Regions from separate parts of the Homo sapiens genome. Here region 1 is linked to region 2. Evidence: fine-mapped expression QTL. Tissue or cell type: sun-exposed skin. Region 2 holds a variant in brackets; the other region holds the start of a gene. All regions are shown on one strand. Distances are between the middles of the regions.

Region 1 (5,271 bases), 28 kb after region 2:
ACACACATTATATACTCATTCAACAACTATTGATTTGTTATATACCATACTAGGCACTGGAGATGCAATGGAGAAGAAAACAGACCTGATCCTCGTCACCTTGGTACTTTGTTGCTAGTGTTTGCTGAATAAATAAATAAGAAACCATCTATTTTCATGACATCTGCATCATCACAAGTTGATAATTGCTCTATATGGTAATTTTGACTCCATACATTGCATACCATAATTGTAGTCATTACTTAGAGAATCTCTCAGTCTCTCTCTCTCTCTCTCTCAACTCAAAGGTGAAATGTATTAAATACAGTAATCAAGTGAGTATATGTTATTTAAGAATGAGGTTGGTGATTTTCCAGGTGTTTATTTCTAGACTTTTTGCCAGGTAAGCTGGCCATTTCATTCCCAAAAGGATTATTCAAATATATAAAATAGTATTTTCAAACACTATTATATATTCCAGAAAAACAAGCATTTGAATAACAAAAACAATAGAACTTAGCAAACATGGTGAAACTCCCATCTCTATTAAAAATACAAAAATTAGCCCGGCATGGTGGTACGTGCCTGTAATCCTAGCTACTCGGGAAGCTGAGGCAGGAGGATCGCTTGAACCCAGGAGGTGGAGGTTGCAGTGAGCTGAGATCACACCACTGCACACCAGCCTGGGCAACAGAGTGAGACTCTGTCTCAAAAAAGAAAACAAAACAAAACAAAAAAATAGAACTTTAAGGTGAGAAATGGGAAAGCAGTCCTGAATTGGTAGAAACCCTAGGCATATGGACAAATTGTTTATTTATTATTTGTTTGTTTATTTAAGAGTGATAATTTGCCAACATATTATTTTGCTAAATATTTTTAAAAGGATTATTGCAGCTGTAGAAAATATATAGAAAGCCATCTTAGGAAACTCTACCTCTTGCTTGCTGATATATAAATTGTAGTCAGCTTTTTCTTCTTTTTGTCACAACCTTTGGAGATTCCGGTAAAATGCCTCCTTCAGAATATTTCTGGGCATCCGTTATTTGTTTATTTATTTATTTTTTTTTTGGTTACATGAGTAAGTTCTCCAGTGGCAATTTCTGAGATTTTGGTGCACCCATCACCCAAGCAGTGTACCCTGTACCCAATGTGTAGTCTTTTATCTCTTGTCCCCGTCCTATCCTTCCCCCCAAGTTCCCAAAGTCCATTTTATCATTCTTACACCTTTGCATCCCCATAGCTTAGCTCCTACTTATGAGTGAGAATGTACAATGTTTGGTTTTCCATTCCTTAGTTACTTCAGTTAGAATAATGGTCTCCAGTTCCATCCAAGTTGCTACTAATGCCATTATTTCATTCCTTTTTATGGCTGAATGTTATTCCATTATATATATGTGTATATATACACATATATACCACAATTTCTCTATCCACTCATCGATTGATGGGCATTTGGGCTGGTTCCATAGTTTTGCAACTGCAAATTGTGCTGCTATTAACATGTGTGTGCAAGTATCTTTTTTGTATAATGACTTTTCTTCCTCTGGGTAGATACCCAGGTAGTGGGACTGCTGGATGAAATGGTAGATCCACTTTTAGTTCTTTAAGGAATCTCCACACTGTTTTCCATAGTGGTTTTACTAGTTTACATTCCCACCAGCAGCGTAAAAGTGTTCTCTTTTCCCCACATCCACACCAACATCTAATTTTTTAAATTTTTTGATTATGGCCAGTTTTGCTGGAGTAAGGTGGTATTACATTGTGGTTTTGATTTGCATTTCCCTTATAATTAGTGATATCTAGCCTTTTTTCATATGTTTGTTCACCATTTTTATATCTTCTTTTGAGAATTGTCTATTCATGTCCTTAGCCCATTTGTTGATGGGATTGCTTGTTTTTTTCTTGCTGGCTTGTTTGAGTTCCTTGTAGATTCTGAATATTAGTCCTTTGTTGGATATATAGATTGCAAAGATTTTTCCCACTCTGTGGGCTGTTTACTCTGCTGATTATTTCTTTTGCTGTGTAGAAGCTTTTTAGTTTAATCAAGCATTGTTTGGGCAAATTGTTACAAATCATTCCTGCAGGACTCCATTCAGCCTAGATAACCATACTTTTGGCCCAGTTCTCACAGAATTTCTACAGAAACCCTACCTCCTCAAAGTAATAAAAAGTTTGCATTACAATCGGACTAATATCAAAGAAAATAAAAATAACAATTGGGCTAATTATAATGATTACCTACATAGCTTTCTCCATTAACTAACTCACAACAGCTCTGTTAAGTAGTCAGGACAAATATTACCACCCCCGGTTCACAGCTGGAATAATAGTACTTGCATAATAATAATTCTTGAGGGATTCTTAAATGCTGGCACTGTGTTAATTTCTTTATATTCATCGAATATCCCCAATAACCCTACAGGTAGATACTATTATTTTCCCCATTTTCAGGCCAGGTAATTAATGAAGCTTAAAAATGTAAGTACCCTGCCCCCAGGAGTGCATAATTATTAAGTAGCAGAACCAATGCTTATATTTAAATCAGAAACACTCAGAAGTAGCATAAGAATTTAGTAAAAACGAAACACACCCTCGTGCAATCCGTATTATGTGGCCACGTGCCTACCAGGGTCAGCTGGATGGTACTTGTCTGCTAGAAGTGAGTCGAGGCAGAAGAATCAACACAGGAGCTGGAAGGGCCTCTGGAAATCAGCTGGGGACTAGAGACAGGTGTGCAGCCCTCGGTTTACAGAGGCTGTGAGACCAAGAGAGTTCCAAGACCTCCAGGAAAACATCTCCCTGCTAAAAGGCTTTCCCAACCTTTAGAAATCTATTCATTTTCCCCACTTTCCATCCTCTTTCTCTTGCTATCTCTTTATCGCTCCTCCTGCCTTCTTCCTTTCTTTCCTTCAGTAAACGTTTTTTGAAACGATGATGAGCAAAAAACGCCTGATCCAGTCTATGGCGCGTTTCGGTGGGAAGATGAACACGCCTTCCCAGCAGAGTAAAACGTGATTACACCAAGGACCGGTACCCTCTCCCTTCCCTCGGCCAGGTCCACGTCCCCAGGCGTCGGAGAAGGGGTTGGACCGCGCAGCGGGGCGTCAGAGTTGCCAGGCGCCCGGGGCAAATACCGGCAGCGGTGGTTGTGCGGTGTCCTAGCAACGGGGCGGCAGCAGGGCACACACACCGCCCAAGCCCGGACGGTGGCCGCGAAGCTAGGGCCACCATGGCGGACCGCAGGCGGCGGCTCCGGCCGGGGACGTTGGCCCCGGTGCGCGAGGGCGTGAACTGCAGGTCCAGGTAAACACTCAGCGCCCGGGCCGAGGGCGCATCCCACGCGGGCCGCGCGGGGGCGCCTGGAGACCCGCGCTTGCTGGGGCGGGGGCGAGGGGAGAGGTCCAGCCTGCCTTCCCTCCTCAATGCTTCCTGTACGTACAACATAATACGCTGAGATAACCAACGCTTGGCGCTGCTCTTTGCAAAGGATTTTTCCTGCTGTCATCCTCACAACCCCCGCCTCCCACGCCCCCAGGGATGTAGACTAATATCCCCATTTCTGATGGGAAAGTGATGGCCGCAGAGTCCGCTGCGGAGGCTGGTGCCCTCCTGCTAGCCACCCACCCTTTTCCGGCCTAGCCAACCAACTGTTCGCCAGATGCCCCGGGGCGCCTGGAGCCCTGTATCCGATGTTAGGCATCTGCTGCCCCTGGAGCCTTTGGTATCCAGATGGCGGCTGTGGCCAAGTGGAGCCCAGGGTTGGGGGAGCGCCTGGGGTGCTAGGGAGGTCTGCTAACATTTTGTACGGTTGTGGTAGCCTCAGAGCAGGAACAAGAAGGTTTTTGCCTTTACCGACTCCTTGACAATCTTTTGAGAATGGAATTCGTCTGTCTTGGAGACAGCACGATGTGGTGGTGAAGATTCCAAAGTCTAGAATCAGAAAGGCTTGAGTAGAAGGCTAGTTCTCCTCTTGTTTGCCTGGTGACCTTAGGCAAGTTGGTTGCTCCTTCTGGGCTCACTTTCCTAACTATAAAATGGGGCAATAACTTAGGAATCAGCTTTCTAAGATTGTCGTGAGGATTAATGGAGATAGCACATGTAAAGTTGTCACTGGCACATAGAACGTATCGTGTACATGTTAGCAATTATTCATAGTTGTTTCTAGCAGTTATTCATAAGAGCTTCTTTGGGAAGCTTCTCCCCCCCATTTAAAAATTTTGTTTTGAAATAACTGTAGGCTCACCAGAAGTTGCAGAAATAGTACAGAGGTCCCATGTACCCTTCCCCTAGCTGCTTACAGTGGTACCATTTTACATAACGATAGCACATTGCCAAACCAGGAAACGTCATTGGCAGAATATGCTAATTGAACTAGAGACCTTACTTGGATTTTATCAGCTCTTACTTGCACTCAGGTGTGTGAGTTCTGTAACATTTGGTCATATGTATACATAAAGATACAAAACTGTTCCTTCCCCACAGAGGAACTCTTAGTATTACCCCTTTGCTGTCACTTCTTTTCCCACCCCAGCCTTGTCAATCGCTAAGCTGCTCTCCATTTCTGTAAGTTAGTTCTTTTGAGAATGTTAGATAAACAGAATAATACAGTATGTAACTGTTTGAGACTGGCTCTTTTTCACTCATCATAAAGCCTCTGAGATCCATCCAAGTTGTGTGTATCAGTAGTTCATTTTTGTTGCTGAGTCGTGTTCCTTGGTGTGGATGTACCACAGTTTGTTTATCCATTCACTTGTTGAAGGACATTCAGGTTGTTTTGGACATTCCAGTTTTGGGGCTAATATGTAGAAAGCTGCTATCGACATTTGTGTACAGAATTTTCTGAGAACATACTTTTTCATTTCTTTAGGATACATGTCCGGTATCCTTTTGCAATTCTTAAAGAGGGAAATATCCATATATCATGTACTAGTGTCTGTGAAAACAGTAAATATTTAGAAAAATTGTTTCCAGTTTTATTTTATGGGCCAAGCAAGATTTTTCCTGAACCTAACATAATGCAGAATGGTAAGCTTATTAACTATGAGAGGCCATGTGGGGGAGAGGAAAGCCCTCCCTTTACACTGGTTGCCTTACTCTCCTCTTGGAACTTAGTTTCCTTATTAAAAAGAGGAAAGCGGTAGCCAGGCATGGTGGCACATGCCTGTAGTCCCAGCTACTCAAGAGGCTGAGGTGGAGGGATTACTTGAGTCTGAGAGGCAGAGGTTGCAGTGAGCCAAGATTACACCATTGCACTCCAGCCTGGGTAACAGAGTGGAACCCTGTCTCGAATTA
Region 2 (5,271 bases):
TTAAAAAGTTAAACAGAATTATCATATGACCTAGCAACTCTCTTCCTAGGTATATAACCCCCAAAATTGAAGACAGGTACTCAAACAAATACTTGTAAACCAGTGTTCATAGCAGCATTGTTCACAATAGTCAAAAGGTGGAACCGACCCAAATGTCATCAGACAATAATAGATACACAAAATATGTTATAGACATACAGTGGAAAATACTATTCAGCTATAAAAAGGAAAGAAATAGGCTGGGTGTGGTGGCTCATACCTGTAATACCAGTATTTTGGGAGACTGAGGCAGGAGGATTGCTTGGGACCAGGAGTTCAAGACTAGCCTGGGCATCATAGCAAGACCCTATCTCTATAGAAAAATTAAAAATTAGATGGGCACGGTGGCATGCACCTATAGTCCCAGCTTACTTATGAGGTGAGATAGGAGGATTCCTCGAGTCCAGGAGTTCAAGGCTGCAGTGAGCTGATTGTGCCACTGTACTCCAGCCTGTGACAGAGCTAGATCCTGTCTCTTAAAGAAAGAATGAAGTCCTGATACATGCTACTACAGTGCAGACTTCTTTTCTTTTCTTTCTCATCTGCCATTTCTGATGTGAGTAATGGTCCCTCTTAGAATATGATCTTTTTAAAAATCAGTGATGGGAAAAGAATTCTAGAAAGTTCTGGCAGTTTTTTACCCAGGGAGAAATAAAAGGGATAACCAGTCATAGGTACATTTTCTGTTACATAAGAAGCAAGATTGTACAAGAATGCTTCCAGGTGCTCACCTGGGATCAGCTGGGACCACAGGGGTTTCTTCATTCTCTCAGCGGAGTCAGTACACACACTCAGCTTCCCCTGGGGATGGCAGCTTCCTCCTGGTCCTCTTTATTTCCCCATGGGAAACTGTACAACTCACAGGCCCCAAGGTCCCTCACTGATTCCTAATCAACTCCTGTAAAGAGTCAGCTCCCTAAGTCCAGACTGCCTGGCACCATGCAATCTGTATATTCCCTTATGAACAAGGCCACTTTCCCATACCTGCCCACAGGAAGAAAAACCCATTGTGGCAGGGGAAGGGGACAGGCTTTCTCCTCTGGAACCGAATCATACAGCCCAGCAGCCTTCACCTGCTTCACTAATGGTAAGCTTGGGCGACCACTGCCTCACTGGTCCTGGCCTGGGGAGTTTTTCTTTTCCCCACTAAAGCCTATTCCCCATTACTCCTCTTTTGTTTGGCATGGGGGAGATGAAGTTTCGCTCTTGTTGCTCAGGATGGAGTGCAGTGGTGCAATCTCAGCTCACTGCAACCTCTGCCTCCTGGGTTCAAGCGGTTCTCCTGCCTCAGCCTCCCGAGTAGCTGGGATTACAGGCACCTGGTACCACATCTGCCTAATTTTTTGTATTTTTAGCAGAGACGGGATTTCATCACACTGGCCAGGCTGGTCTTGAACTCCTGACCTCAGGTGATCCATCCGCCTTGGCTTTCTAAAGTGCTGGGATTACAGGCATGAGCCACCGCACCCGGCCTATTCCCCATTATTTCAAGCGAACTACTGCAAAAACAGAGAAAAAATACCGCATGTTATCACTTATTAGCTAAAGAGCTAAGCATCAAACACACACGGACACAAAGATGGGAACAATTGACACTGGAGACTACTTGAAGGAGGACGTGGGTGAGGAGTATAGGTTGAAAACCTACCTATTGGGTATCATGCTCACTACCTGGGTGACAGGATCCTTCGCACACCAAACCTCAGCGACACCCAGTTTACCTGTGTAACAAACTTGCACATGTACCACCTGAACCTAAAATAAAAATCAAAGGAAAAAAATGCGTATTCCTTAATCTATGCCACATGATGTTGTGGAATTCATCCCAAACTCTTTAACAATAGGTGACTACCATGAAGGGATCCACCTGGTATACTAATATCTCTATATGAAACAACAAAAAGAAACTGCACATTTAAGAATGAGGCCTACACAGAATTTCAGGGAGGCTGGGCAGGCCCAATCCTTTATCTGAAGAAAAATCTCAATATTCAGTGGTACAAAATACTACTTTTAAATTCAGTCTCCAATCCTTCCAGTGTCCAATTCATGAACATCTGGGCATCATATTTCCTATCTTCTTTTTTTTTTTTTTTCTGAGACCGAGTCTCACTCTGTTGCCCAGGCTGGAGTGCAGTGGTGTGATCTCAGCTCACTGCAACCTTGGCCTTCTGGGTTCAAGCAATCCTCGTGCCTTGGCCTCCCCAGTAGCTGGGACTATAGGCGTGAGCCACCATGCCCAGCTAATTTTTGTATTTTTTAGTACAGACGGGGTTTCACCATGTTGGCCAGGCCAGTCTCAAACTCCTGACTTCAGGTGATCCACCTGCCTCGGCCTTCCAAAGTGCTGGGATTACAGGCATGAGCCACCGTGCCCGGCCTTTTTCCTATCTTCTCCTTAGTCCTTAACTCTCCGCTGCCTCCACCAGCCCTGTCCTAGAGGAGCCTCTCAAGTTCCGGGTAATCATCAGAGGAGGGTTTTGGTCCTTCACATTCTTTCAGAGTCAACAGCACAAACCCATCCTTTGCTTGTCACTGTTGAAGTTCTCTCAAACTCTATTTACTATGTCTGAGCAAAAGGTAAATATTACTTGCTATATGCCAAGCTCTGTTCTAAGGACTTCACATCTATTAATTTTTCAAAGGTCTGGGTAGGGGAAGAAGACCCTGGTCATGGATATTTCTACCATGGAGGACTAGTAAGCCCCAGCTGAGCGCCTAGTTTAAGTCTTGGTCAGGCAAGAGTTCCAAGCTGAAGCTCAGAAGAAAGGCAGGGGGGGAAGAGGCCCAGGTGAAGCCTCGTGCATGGGAATCGACCATGTAGGTGTAAGAATTCTCTGGCAGGATCAGACCTTGACAGGTGGATGCATCAGACTAATGATAATTGCACACCCCTTCAAAGCCATATTTTTGTTCAATATCAAAGGTAAGGCTTTGTGGGGGCTGGTAGCAGATGTCA[A/G]CCTCTTGTCAATCCAGCTCTGGGGGCATGTTTGTACACCATTCAGTAAAACAGTCCTCCAGGTGTTAATGAAAACTACCTTCCTTGGAAGTACTTTATTTTAACCTCAGCTCATTTCTGCAAGTGGCTTAACCAAGTGTTCCCTCCAAACACATACAGTGCTTGGCCTGTGAAAGGCTTTGGGAGACAGAATTGTCTCCTTCTTGGTAGATTTCCAGTGAGTTTTGGGTAATCTGCATCCTGGGGAGTGGTACAGTAGCCCACCCCTTATTGGGTCCTACTTAGCCAGAAGTCTAACTTTGAGAATTCATCAAAATTTGGCTGGGTACTGTGAGAAGACAGCAGAATCCTGTATAATCCAGAATCAGAATCAGAATGTGATGTGCATCACAATATTATCACAGTTGTCTTTATTATCACCGCCCTCTTCCTCTAATCCCTTGCTACTCAAAGTGTGATCCCAAGACGTTGCATTGGAACCACCTAGGAGCTTGTTAGAAATAGAGACTCTCAGGCCCTGGTCTGGGCCAACTAAACAAAATTTGCATTTGAACAAGAACAACCTATGACCCATGAGTAGAGTAAAGTGTGAGAAGCATAGCAGGTTAGTCCATAGTCCCTCAAGGCCCAGTCACAAGTGTGCTTTTCCATAACCCTTCTTCAGGGGACCTCAAAACTGGTATTTGGACTCTCCACTCTCCACCTCACTAAAAGGAGAGTGTCCCTGGCCTGCTTTCCACCCTCAGAGTGAGTCTCCCTGGACTATTGAAGATCACTATGTCTTGGGACATTCAGGCTTGATCTTTGGGCTGCTACCCTATCCCTGAGCGATGTGTGACACAGTCATGCTGTCTTCCCAGGTTCTGATGATGTTGGGGGAATGTAATTAAAAATAAAATCTCCTGCCAAACCAGGAGACCTCCCCACAAACACAGAAGGGAAAGACAATTTATTATTGAATAGGTATTAAACCAGAATGTGACGTGCATCACAGGCAATCTGCTGAAGAGATTGCAGATTGCAAAGTCAGAAAGAAATCTTACCCTTTCCTATATCTAGGCAGATACAGTCCATTACATACATGTTTTCAGGTAGAAGACTTGACAGCACCATTGTCACACATAGTTCATCCGAAATTCACGGGATAATTGGGCTGGCCATCTGTGTTAATTGCCTTTATCCGAAGGAAAAATAAAACTTCTCATATCTTTATGACAGGAGGTAGTTTTGCAACTTAGAGCCAGGCACCTTAGAGTTAGGCTCCTGCCCTCCCACAGAAATGGAGAGAGGAGGGGCTGTCTTTCTTGATGATTACACTTCAAAGGGTTCACTCCCAAGTCCTTAAGAAAAACATTCCTGTGTTGTAAAGGTGGCAGGAGACTTTTTTAAAGCTTTTAAGAAGATGTTCATACATCTTAAAAGGGCAGAGAAAGAATAAACAATTATAACTTTTTAAAAAATCCTTTTTATTTTATTGAGACAGGATCTCACTCTGTCACTCAGGCAGAGTGCAGTGGCATGATTTTGGTTCACTGCAACCTCTGCCTCCCAGACTCAAGCAATTCTCCCAGGTCAGTCTTCCAAGTAACTGGGACTACAGATGCAAGCCACTAGGCCCAGCTAATTTTTGTTATTTTATTTTATTTATTTATTTTTAATTTCAGAAGTTTTTGGGGAACAGGTGGTGTTTGGTTGCATGGAAAAGTTCTTTAGTGGAGATTTCTGAGATTTTGGTGCACACATCACCCAAGCAGTAAACACGGTATCCAATGTGTAGTCTTTTATCCCTCACCCGCCTCCTACCCTTCCCCCCAAGTCCCCAGAGTCCATTATATCATTCTTATAGGCATAAGAATGATATAATGCATCCTCATAGCTTAGCATCTTATATGCATCCTCATAGCTTAGCTCCCACTTGTGAGAAGATACAATGTTTGGTTTTCTATTCCTGAGTTACTTCACTTAGAATAATGATCTCCAACTCCACCCAGGTTGCTGCAAATGCTATTATTTTGCTCCTTTTTATGGCTGAGTAGTATTCCATAGTAAATATATATACCACATTTTCTTTATCCACTCGCACTCGTTGGCACTTGAGCTGGTTCCATATTTTTCCAGTTGTGTATTGTGCTGCTATAAAGACACATGTGCAAGTGTCTTTTTCATATGATTTCTTTTCCTCTGGGTAGATAGAGTCTTCAGCATTTTCTAGGTATATGATCATATCATCAGCGAACAGTGACAGTTTGACTTCTTTACCAATTTGGATGCCT

What was found. PIP is the estimated chance that this variant, and not a neighbour inherited with it, causes the effect.
Region 1: FAM47E starts here. The variant in region 2 is fine-mapped to the expression of FAM47E in sun-exposed skin (GTEx, PIP 0.93).

The regions. Positions count from the first base shown.
Region 1 is chr4:76,248,539-76,253,809 of GRCh38, forward strand. FAM47E (family with sequence similarity 47 member E) reads left to right here and starts at 3,183. Exons shown (of 8, transcript NM_001136570.3): 1 at 3,183-3,282. The coding sequence starts at 3,209. It overlaps FAM47E-STBD1 (FAM47E-STBD1 readthrough), which reads left to right and starts at 3,183. Exons shown (of 7, transcript NM_001242939.2): 1 at 3,183-3,282. The coding sequence starts at 3,209. It overlaps LOC105377286 (a long non-coding RNA gene), which reads right to left and starts at 3,139. Exons shown (of 3, transcript XR_938897.4): 1 at 2,570-3,139.
Region 2 is chr4:76,220,108-76,225,378 of GRCh38, forward strand. It overlaps a transcript of SCARB2 not described here and a transcript of FAM47E not described here. Among named protein-coding and RNA genes, the nearest start is that of SCARB2, 8.9 kb to the left of the region's middle. The variant A/G (reference allele first, on the strand shown) is at 2,999.